Linked DNA regions of Homo sapiens. The protein of the gene in region 1 interacts with the protein of each later gene in a pairwise test. Each region holds a gene or a part of one and is shown in the gene's direction. Other genes may lie near its edges.

Evidence for each region.
Region 2: the proteins of SH2B1 (region 1) and KIAA0319 interact in a two-hybrid assay, tested with the Homo sapiens proteins (one study listed by BioGRID and IntAct).
Region 3: the proteins of SH2B1 (region 1) and CSAD interact in a two-hybrid assay, tested with the Homo sapiens proteins (one large-scale study listed by BioGRID and IntAct).

The regions. Positions count from the first base shown.
Region 1 is NC_000016.10:28,870,309-28,873,954, forward strand, and holds part of SH2B1 (SH2B adapter protein 1), read left to right. Parts: intron 1-1,471; coding exon 1,472-1,675; intron 1,676-1,881; coding exon 1,882-2,093; intron 2,094-2,225; coding exon 2,226-2,397; coding exon of another isoform or gene 2,398-2,450; intron 2,451-2,861; coding exon of another isoform or gene 2,862-2,961; intron 2,962-3,138; coding exon 3,139-3,512; 3' UTR 3,513-3,646. UniProt on the Homo sapiens protein: Adapter protein for several members of the tyrosine kinase receptor family.
Region 2 is NC_000006.12:24,643,267-24,647,421, reverse strand, and holds the start of KIAA0319 (dyslexia-associated protein KIAA0319 isoform a precursor), read left to right. Parts: upstream 1-1,230; 5' UTR 1,231-1,649; coding exon of another isoform or gene 1,650-1,686; exon of another isoform or gene 1,687-1,795; intron 1,796-4,155. UniProt on the Homo sapiens protein: Involved in neuronal migration during development of the cerebral neocortex. May function in a cell autonomous and a non-cell autonomous manner and play a role in appropriate adhesion between migrating neurons and radial glial fibers.
Region 3 is NC_000012.12:53,160,414-53,163,940, reverse strand, and holds part of CSAD (cysteine sulfinic acid decarboxylase), read left to right. Parts: intron 1-2,551; coding exon 2,552-2,668; intron 2,669-2,749; coding exon 2,750-2,814; intron 2,815-3,096; coding exon 3,097-3,178; intron 3,179-3,527. UniProt on the Homo sapiens protein: Catalyzes the decarboxylation of L-aspartate, 3-sulfino-L-alanine (cysteine sulfinic acid), and L-cysteate to beta-alanine, hypotaurine and taurine, respectively. The preferred substrate is 3-sulfino-L-alanine.

The DNA.
Region 1 (3,646 bases):
AGCTTAGTGTCCCCTGAGCAGCACAAGCAGGAATCACGTTGGGAGCTCAGGAGGAAGAGAGCAGGGGAAGGTGGGAGAGACAGGGACTGCGACGCCGAGGAGAGGAGAGGACATGCCTGGGGACGTGAAGGGCAAGAGCAGAGACCTGCGGGGAGGGCCCAGGATATGGGGACAAATTGGATGGGAAATTGGGTTAAAGTGGAAGAGACATGAATACAAGGTAAGGTAAAGCTCAAGTTGGTGTGGGTTGGGGGAGTAATAGAAGGAGCATCTTTGATGCCTCTTAAGAGTTAGGGGCTTTGTCCTATAGTTCAACAAAGGACACCTTTTTTTTTTTGTTTGTGTGTTTAATTTTTTTATTTTTAAAAAATTATTGTTTGTGTTTTTGTTTTTGAGATAGGGTCTTGTTATGTCTCCCAGGCTGGAGTGCAGTGGTGCAGTCACAGCTTCCTGCAGCCTTGACCTCCCTGGCTCAAGCCATCTTCCTGCGTCAGCGGCTTAAGGTGCTGGGACCACAGGCGTGTGCCACCACCACACCTAGCTAATTTTTTATTTTTTGTAAGAGATGGGGTCTCACCATGTTGCCCAAGTTGGTCTTGAACTCCTGGGCTCAAGTCATTCTCACACCTCAGCCTCCCAAAAGGCTGGGATTACAGGCGTGAGCCACTGTGTGCAGCCAGAATTCCGTGTGTGTGTGTGTGTGTGTGTGTGTGTGTGTGTGTGTTTTGAGACAGAGGCTTGCTCTGTCGCCCAGGCTGCAGTGCAGTGAAACAATCTCGGCTCACTGCAACCTCTGCCTCCCGGGTTCAAGCAATTCTTCTGCCTCAGCCTCCCAGGTAGCTAGGATTACAGGTGTGCACCACTACGTCCAGCTAATTTTTGTATTTTTAGTAGAGATGGTGTTTCACCATGTTGCCCAGGCTGCTCTCGAACTCCTAAGCTCAAGTGATCCTCCTGCCTCAACCTCCCAAAGTGCGGGTATTACAGGTGTGAGCCACTGCGCCTGGCCCAGGACTCCTTTTGAATGTCAAAATATTTGAGGCAGCTGGGCACGGTGGCTCACGCCTGTAATCCCAGAGCTGAGGTGGGCAGATCACTTGAGTCCAGGAACTCAGGGCCAACCTGGGCTATTATATAGCGAGACCCCTTCTCTACAAAAACATGTATATATATATTTAAGGCATTCTGCTCTCCGTTTCTGCAACAGTCTTTCAGCTGTTGATTCAGAAAAAGATGGAGACACATTGGGACTTTAGAACCTCCTTGCAATAACTCTGCAGTCCCTCAGCAGCGCAGGAAGCATCAGTTAGGAGCCATTGGTAAAAGCATCAGGGGTCACTACCCACAGAGCTGTTTGGCATCTTGGCCAGCGACTGCACACAGGGTAGACTGCTGGTGAGGAGATGGGCCCAGGACAGTCCTTTAGAAGAGGAATTTCTTGGGTTCTCAGCTTTGCCCTTTTTTTTTCCAGGGGCATATGGGGGCCTCTCAGACCGCCCCTCGGCATCCATCTCCCCCAGCTCTGCCTCCATTGCCGCCTCCCATTTTGACTCGATGGAACTGCTTCCCCCAGAGTTGCCCCCCCGCATCCCCATTGAAGAGGGACCCCCAACAGGGACAGTTCATCCCCTCTCAGCCCCCTACCCTCCCTTGGACACTCCGGAAACAGCCACAGGTACCGGAGGTGTGAGTGTGCATGTCTCCAGGCCTGGGTGCCTACCTTCCTGACCACCTCTCCTGGGATCCCGAGGGAGCTGGCCCAGGGGAGTTGGGGACGCATGTGGGGAGCAGGCGCCTTGAGGGGAAGGCAAGGCTTTTTTCTCCCAGGATGGGGGAGGCTGCCCTGACACCCCGGTTTCCCTCCCTCTCTCCTTCCTGAAGGGTCCTTCCTGTTCCAGGGGGAGCCAGAGGGCGGTGAGGGGGACCAGCCCCTCTCAGGGTATCCTTGGTTCCACGGGATGCTCTCTCGGCTCAAGGCTGCACAGTTGGTGCTGACTGGCGGCACTGGCTCCCACGGTGTCTTCCTGGTGCGCCAGAGTGAGACAAGGCGGGGTGAATACGTCCTCACCTTCAACTTCCAGGGCAAGGCCAAGGTGAGCCACCCTGTGGGAAAGGCTCTGTTCTGTGCATAGTTGGCAGTGGGGTGGGGGAGCACTGCCGGGGGAGGGGGTTTGTACCTGGCAGGGCCTTTGCCTCCTACCTCACCTCCCCCATCCCGCCCTCAGCACCTGCGTTTGTCGCTGAACGAGGAGGGTCAGTGCCGGGTCCAGCACCTGTGGTTCCAGTCCATTTTCGATATGCTCGAGCACTTCCGGGTGCACCCCATCCCTTTGGAGTCGGGAGGCTCCAGTGATGTTGTCCTTGTCAGCTATGTCCCATCCTCCCAGCGACAGCAGGGTGAGCAGAGCAGGTCTGCAGGGGAGGAGGTGCCCGTGCACCCAAGAAGTGAGGTGTGTGTGCCAGAAAGATGGGGCGGGGAGGGGGGACTATCACAAGGAGAAGCTTTGCTTGGGAGAGCAGGGTAGAGGAGGCTGTTGTGCCTCGGGGTTTGGAAGGGAAAGAAATGCGCTGATAGGACACAGGAAGGCAGAAGGCTCCTGGCCGGAGCCGGGGCGGCAGCTGAGAGGTGGGCGGGCGCATCCCCATTCCATCGGATCCTCTGTTCCATTGTCTGTCTGTCTCCTGGACCCATCCTGGCCTCGTCTTTGCCCTCCGTCGCAGCCTGGCCTTGGGCCTGCCCTTCCCGGGGACACTCGGTCTGATCCCCTTCCCTCCTCCCTCAATGTCTCATGTCCCTGTCTGATCTCTCCCTTTCCCCTGCCCCACCGTCCCATCTGTCCCCACGTTGCCCCTCCCCCCAGGCCGGGAGCAGGCTGGGAGCCATGCGGGGGTGTGCGAGGGAGATGGATGCCACCCCGATGCCTCCTGCACCCTCATGCCCTTCGGAGCGAGTGACTGTGTGTAAGTGTGGTCCTCCTCTCACCACCGCCCATGATCCATCTTCCATGGATGGGGGGTTGCTCAGGAGATGGGATGTGGGGAGACAGCCACGCTCCTGGGGGGCTGAGTGAAGGGGAGGCCACGGCAGGAGCTCACCTGCCTCCACAATCAGTCTGTTTTCTTACCATTCCTATCCAGAACCGACCACCTCCCATGACCCACCCCAGCCCCCTGAACCCCCTTCATGGACAGATCCCCCACAGCCTGGGGCAGAAGAGGCGTCGAGGGCGCCAGAAGTGGCGGCAGCAGCAGCCGCAGCAGCCAAAGAGAGGCAAGAGAAAGAGAAAGCGGGCGGTGGAGGGGTCCCGGAAGAGCTGGTCCCCGTGGTTGAGCTGGTCCCCGTGGTTGAATTGGAAGAGGCCATAGCCCCAGGCTCAGAGGCCCAGGGCGCTGGGTCTGGTGGGGACGCGGGGGTGCCCCCAATGGTGCAGCTGCAGCAGTCACCACTAGGGGGTGATGGAGAGGAAGGGGGCCACCCCAGGGCCATTAACAACCAGTACTCCTTCGTGTGAGCCAACCCCACCCGCTCCACCCTTTTTAAACCCCCCAGCCCTGCTCGTGAGATTGGGCTGGGTAGGGACAGAGGAGGCCGAAATCCCTCCCCCATGCTTCCTGACCCTTGTTGGCCAAGGGCATCTTTGATGGT
Region 2 (4,155 bases), on another chromosome or scaffold:
TTATTTATTTATTTATTTTGAGACGGAGTCTTGCTCTGTCGCCCAGGCTGGAGTGCAGTGGCACGATCTCGGCTCACTGCAACCTCCGCCTCCTGGATTCAAGCGATTCTCCTGCCTCAGCCTCTCAAGTAGCTGGAACTACAGGCGCGGGCCACCACTCCCGGTTAATTTTTTGTATTTTTAGTAGAGACGGGGGTTTCACCGTGTTAGCCAGAATGGTCTCGATCTCCTGACCTCGTGATCCGCCCGCCTCGGCCTGCCAAAGTGCTAGGATTACAGGCGTGAGCCACCGCACCCAGCTGGTTTTTACTCTTTAAATGTGCATTATCTTATTTGATTCCCAGAATCATCCTATATGAATGCTATTATCTTCATTTTATAATTGAGGAAACAGGTTTATCTAGATTAGGTAACTTGTCTGAGGCTCTTCGGTAAATACGAGTAGCCAAGAAGCTTATTCATCAACAGTGTGTGACTCAGCCCTAAGCACTGCACTTATACCTCCTAGTAATGAGATGTGCGAGGAATGCCCTGGCTACCTTTTCTGCTCATGATATTATCCCTAGATGCTTTCGCATCTTTATTAAAACAGTAAAAATGCAAGAGTCTTCCACCCAAGTTTTCTGTGGTTTAGATTATCACGTTCCTCAAGATGCAAATGTCAAACTATACTGGGCATCCAGTTAACCTGCAAGGCCTGGAGGTGATGGGAGCCCCTCCTAGCACAGGTTCCCAGTCTCAGTCAGAAAGCACCTGCTCAAAATAGAAAGATAATTACAGAGTAGGGGCCAAAGAGACTCCCACTGGAAGAATGGAACTTGTGTAGCTGGGGTGACACAAGCTGGGGACAAGCTGGGGGACACATTCGCGAAGGGTGTTTGACCCAGGCAGTGCACCCACGGCTCCCTTGAGCCACCCTGGCCCGGGTGTTTATTTGGAAGGAGTGTTCATCCCCCAGACTGTTTAGGGCCACGGTGACAGGGAAGGGCTTGGTGAAGGAAAGCAGGTAGGGTATGAAGGCCGCTCAGGTTCACGAAAGACTTTTGCTTGGTCCCCTGCGGGGTGGGAGTGTGTCGCCCCGGTGCGGGTACTTAGAGCGCAACCGGGGAGCTGAGCAGGGGAGCTGAGCAGGGGAGCTGGGCAGGGGCGGCTGCCGCGCCCCACATCCCTGAGGGCGTGTGTGCGCGTGCGCGCGCGTCGCCGTGGTAACCGCGGCGGCGGAAAGGCGCTGAATCACTGGCGCGCGCTTTCCCCGAGCCTGCAGAAGCTGCCGCGGGCGGTGGGCGGGGATCCCCCGGGGGTGCAACCTTGCTCCACCTGTGCTGCCCTCGGCGGGCCTGGCTGGCCCCGCGCAGAGCGGCGGCGGCGCTCGCTGTCACTGCCGGAGGTGAGAGCGCAGCAGTAGCTTCAGCCTGTCTTGGGCTTGGTCCAGATTCGCTCCTCTGGGGCTACGTCCCGGGGAAGAGGAAGCGAGGATTTTGCTGGGGTGGGGCTGTACCTCTTAACAGCAGGTGCGCGCGCGAGGGTGTGAACGTGTGTGTGTGTGTGTGTGTGTGTGTGTGTGTGTGTGTGTGTGTGTGTAAGACCTGCGATGACGACGAGGAGGAACAAGTGGGACGGCGAGTGATGCTCAGGGCCAGCAGCAACGCATGGGGCGAGCTTCAGTGTCGCCAGCAGTGACCACAGGTACGGTATCTACTTCCCAGAGCGCCTGGCCGAGAAATAGGAAAGAGGGCAGCCAGTAGGCAGGCCAATACCCAACAAAAGTAGAATCGAGACGCCCTGAGTTCAGAAGGTGAGTTTCTTAAGATTCTTCTGGGCATTCAGGAAAGGGCATTTTTTGATTGCTGCACTGATTGTTGACTAGTAGGGTGGAGTCGGGGAAATTTGAGTGTCTTTTCCCAACCTCACGAATTGCATTTTTTTAGAAGTAAGGAATCGTTTTCTTTAAACTTCATTCAGAACTATTTATGTGATCTTTCCTATTATTTGCTAAATGCATTTTGTCTCTGTTCCTTACCATAACCTGAAGCTTAAAATCTTTCTCTTCTTCCCTTTGAATTCCCTCCAAGGAATGTCACAAATTAATCGGGAGGATAAACCTGAAATTTTGAGAGTTATCATCTTAAGGTCATTTGTTAATTAAATACAAGGAGGAAAAATATGATATACATACTCATGTGCACTTTTATTGCTGGTTTGTTCATCAAAACATTTTTGTTTGTCGGTGAAATGTTAGTATTTTTTCCACTGCTTGAATTGAAAAGTTGAATGATGTTTTTGATAGTAACAGAAAAAATAAATTGTAGACAATGTTCCCCCCCACACACAAGAATTTTGGAAGTAAATGTTGGTATTTATTTCTTTATTCCTGAAATACATGCTCACTTTCCAAATGCTTCAATTTATTATAAGAAGACCACAATTGTAGAGACTACTAAAGTTATGCCAAATCTAAACTTTTATTTTGTGCTTTTTTTAGTATTATTTTTAATTCAGATGAGGAAAACTGGAGGTGTCAGTTCAGTTATAGACGTAGGAGTCACAGAGAAAGGTGAATTCCTCTGTAATTTGAAAAAGGGAAATGTAAACATATTACCTAAGTACTCTGATTTATTTGTATTAACCATTTGTAATGCATTTGCATTTGTAATGCAAAATGCCGAGGCAAGAACTTAATTTTTGTTTCGAAATAATGAAAATAATTCAGCCAAAATCTTTATGAATTAAAAATAGCCAAAAGAGAGCTTTGGTAATGTATGAATGTAAAAGAATAGAGTTGCTGTTAAATTTTCTTGACTTTTTTTTTTTCCCTAGCCAATAGATAGGAAGCATTCTCTTTAAATAAATACAGTAAGTCCTCACTTAACATTCTTGATACGTTCTTGGAAACTGTGAACCTTTAAGCACAACGAGGTATAAGGAAACCAATTTTACCACAGGCTAATTGATATAAACAAGAGTTAAGTTCCTACAGCATATTTCTGGTCATAAAAAAATCACCAAACTTCTAAATAAAGACCACAACACTTCTAATATTAAACATAGAAATAAATGGGATCTATACATACAGTTAAGAAGGATTAGTAAAAACAAGATCATTATTTACCCAATTATTACAGTTCAAGGTCATGGGTAGCCAGAGTCTCCCTGGTTCAGAGTGGGAACCCCCCCCTCTCCCCTGTCCAGGAAGCTATCCCATCACAGGGTGCACTTTCACAGACACACCCACTCACTCAGACGGGGACCATGTAGACATATGCACAGCTTTGGGATGTGAAGGAAACCGAAGCCCAGAGAAAACCCACGCAGACATGAGGAGAATGAGCAGACTCCACATAGACAGTGGCCCTGGCCAGGAATTTTTTTGTCACCAACGTTGAATGAAACTATGTTATTGAGGCACTGCTGTATGTAGAGCCAGGTATGCCCGTTTCTGGAACGGAGTGCTGCAGATTGCCAGGTCAGAGGGTGTGGGTTTGGGCGTGGCTCTGCCACTTAGTGGCTGTCTCACATTTGGCAAATTCTCTAAACCCTCTAAGGCTCAGTTTCCTCACCTGTAAAATAGAGATAACAATGGGACCTACTTAACGAAATTCCTGTAAGAATTAAATACAATAATATGTTTAAGAGATCTTTGCTCATTGCCTGGCATGTTTTAATAGTAACGCTTCAATAAGTGTTGTTATTTTTGAGATGTGTTCTTTTTCAGGAAATATTTTTCATACCTTAAAAATAATTTGGTACTAAAAAATAGATTTATTTTGACATGTCCAAAGCTTGTTCTGATTTATGATATCAAATCATCATAAAATGCATAAATTTTTCCTTGCAGCACCTTTATAACAGCAACAATAATAAATATAATAATCAAAATCATAAAATCATGTCAATTTAATATTCTGGTAGCTTAATACCCCCAAGGAAGGAGCTTTGCTTTAGTAGGCCTAGAATAATTGGTAGGTTATTTTTCTATTTGTTTTTAAAATTTTTTTTATAGATTTAGAGTGTACAAGTGCAGTTTTGTTATGTGGATATATTGTGTAGTGTCAAAGTCTGGGCTTTTAGTGTACCCATTACCCGAATAGTGTAGGTTATTTTTCTATTTGTCTTTAAAAATCTGTACCTTTAGACACTATTCATGTGAATTCAATA
Region 3 (3,527 bases), on another chromosome or scaffold:
CTGGGTTCTCAGTTCTGTTCCACTGATCTACATGTCTATCCTGTAGACTACATTGTCTTGATTCAGCTGTAGCTTTGTAGTATGTTTTGAAATCAGGATGTGTGAGTCCTCCAACTTTGTTCTTTTCTTCAAGATTGTTTTTCGCTAGTCTGGGTTTCTTGAATTTCCATATGAATTTAAGATCAGCTTGTCCATTTCTGCAAAGAGGGCAACTGGGATTTTGATAGGAATTGTGTTCATTCATCAACATGAAACATATTTTCATTTATTTAGGTCTTTAATTTCCACAGTGTTTTGTAGTTTTCAGAGTATATGCTTTATACTTCTTTTGTTAAATAGATTAAGTATTTTATTCTTTTTTGGTGTTTTTGTAAATGAAATTGTTTTCTTAATTTCATTTTTAGATTGTTCATTGCTAATGTGTATAGAGATACAATTGATTTTTGTATATTCTGTCTTTTGGAAGAGTTTGTGATCTGTTACCAATTTTTCATTAAATGTTTGATGGAATTCATCAGCAAAGCCATCTCTGCCTGGGCCTTTCTTTTCTTTTTAACTTAAAAAAAATGGAGACAGGGTCTTGCTCTGTTGCTGAGGCTGGAGTGCAGTGGCACGATCAGGGCTCACTGCAGCCTTGACCACCTGGGCTCAAGTGATCCTCCTGCCTCAGACTCCCACTGTGGTAGATTTTTTTTGTTTGTTTTTGGAGACAGGGCCTCACTCTGTTGACCAGGCTGTAGAGCAGTGGTGCAATCATGGTTCACTGCAGCCTTGATCTCCCAGGCTCAAGTGATCCTCCCACCTCAGCCTCCCAGGTAGCTGGGACTATAGGAGTGCACCCCTATACACCTGTCTATTTTTTTTCTTTTTTTTTTTTTTGAGACAGAGTTTTGCTCTTGTTGCCCAGGCTGAGGTGCAATGGCGTGATCTTGGCTCACAGCAACCTCCGCCTCCCGGGTTTAAGCCATTCTCCTGCCTCAACCTCCAGAGTAGCTGGGATTACAGGCATGTGCCACCATGCCTGGCTAATTTTGTATTTTTAGTAGAGACAGGGTTGTTCCATGTTGGTCAGGCTAGTCTCGAACTCTGGACCTCAGGTGATCCGCCCGCCTCGGCCTCCCAAAGTGCTGGGATTCCAGGCATAAGCCACCACGCCCAGCCTATGTATTTTTTTTTCGTTTGTAGAGGTGAGGTCTCACTAGGTTGCCCAGGCTGGTCTTGAACTCCTAGGCTCAAGCAATTCTCCTGCCTTGGCCTCCCAAAGTGCTGGGATTACAGGCATGAGCTACCACATCCAGCTGTAGTAGTTTTAAAAATTACTAATTCAATTTCTGCATAAACTTTTGTACTATTCAAATTTATTTATTTATTTAGAGACAGAGTTTCACTTTGTCACCCAGACTGGAGTGCAGTGGCACAATCTTGGCTCACTGCAACCTCTGCTGCCCAGGTTCAAGTGATTCTCCTGCCTCAGCCTCCTGAGTAGCTGGGATTACAGGCGCCTGCCACTGTGCCTGGCTAATTTTTGTAGTTTTAGGAGAGACAGGGTTTCACCATCTTGGCCAGGCTGGTCTTGAACTCCTGATCTCGTGATCCACCCGCGTCGGCCTCCCAAAGTGCTGGGATTACAGGTGTGAGCCACCGTACCCAGCCTATTTATTTATTTTTGAGACAGAATCTTGCTCTTTTGCCCAGGCTGGAGTACAATGGTGTGATCTTGGCTCAGTGCAACCTCTGCCTCCCGGGTTCAAGCGATTCTCATGCCTCTGCCTCGGCTTCCGCCTCCCAAGTAGCTGGGATTACAGGCGTGCACCACCACACCCAGATAATTTCTGTATTTTTTAATAGAGACGGGGTTTTGCCATGTTGGCCAGGCTGGTCTTGAACTCCTGGCCTCAAGTGATCCACCTGCCTTGGCTTCTCAAAGTGCTGGGATTACAGGTGTGAGCCACCGTGCCTGGCCTATTTGTTTATATTTTTTGAGGCAGGCTTTCATTCTGTTGCCCAGGCTGGAGTGCAGTGGCAAAATCATAGCTCATTGTAACCTCAAACTCCTGGGCTCAAGCAATCCTCCCATCTCAGCCTCCTGAGTAGCTGGGACTACAGGCATGCCCACTACACTTGGCTAATTAAACAAAAAAATTTTTTTAGAGATGGGGTCTTGCTATTTTGCCCAGGCTGGTCTTGAACTCCTGGCCTCAGGCAATCCTGCCTTGGCCTCCTGAAGTGCCGAGATTATAGGTGTGAGCCACTATGCCTGACTCAATTTTTTTTCAATAGCATTGGATCTTCCAGTAAAACATTCAAGTTCTTTGAGAGTATGAGCTTTGGAAATGAAAACCTAGGTTCGAAGTCCATCTCTGCAGCTTCTGCTTGGATCTTTGAATCTCAGTGTCCCTGGCTGCACATTAAAAAGGACAGTAACACATTGTTGTGAGGTTGAAATGGGCCATTTTAGGCATGCAAAGAGCTTAGAGCTGGGCCCAGCATCAGGCTCTGAGTAGCTTTTGAGATGACTTTACATCTTTCTCCCTCTACATTTTGGCAACAGGGTGCTGTGCCGTTCCTGGTCAGTGCCACCTCTGGCACCACTGTGCTAGGGGCCTTTGACCCCCTGGAGGCAATTGCTGATGTGTGCCAGCGTCATGGGCTATGGCTGCATGTGGATGTGAGTGGGACTTCGGCTTGGGGGTGCGGTGGGGTGGGCTGAGCCAAGGCCAAGGCCCACGTTGTTCCTCCTGCTCCACAGGCTGCCTGGGGTGGGAGCGTCCTGCTGTCACAGACACACAGGCATCTCCTGGATGGGATCCAGAGGTGCATACAGTCCCCTTCTTCCCAAATCCCGCCCTTCAAACCATTGGTCCAGAGAATCATCATGGACTAGGGAGTTTAACATGGCTGGGGTAGGAGGCTGAGGGGAGGGGGACTGGAGAGAGGATTGATTGGAGCTGGGAGGTCAGACATGGCAGTTCTTCCTGATGCTGGGGTGAGGGTGAGACCAAAGCCCCTTTGCTGGGGACCTGGAAAAGGAGGAAGGGCTCTGGTTGGGCAGCTGGAGGAGGAGCCACTGACCTGCCTTTGCTCCACCCCATCCAGGGCTGACTCTGTGGCCTGGAATCCCCACAAGCTCCTCGCAGCAGGCCTGCAATGCTCTGCACTTCTTCTCCAGGATACCTCGGTGGGTCTGCCCCTGCCCCTGCACCAGCCCCACCTCTCTCTGGAGCTCTGCCTTCTCTATCCCACCTTAGATAAAGTTCAGGCCTTTCTCTATTCTCTTTACCATCCCTTCTGAAGCTGCATCTCAGCTACCACCCTAACCTGTATTAGGCTCCTTCACTCCCCCAGTGGCCTCTCTTAAAAGAAAAGTTTCCAGCTTGAAGTTGGAGTCAGAGGTATCCTGGAGTTTCTAGCTTGAGGTTGCCATCAGAGTTTGGGAAGAACCCTGGGTATTGGGAGGAAACCCAAAGAAAGGTGTTGGAGCCAGCAGGCAGCCGTCCCAGCAGTGCCATCTGGCTCCAGGGAAAGAA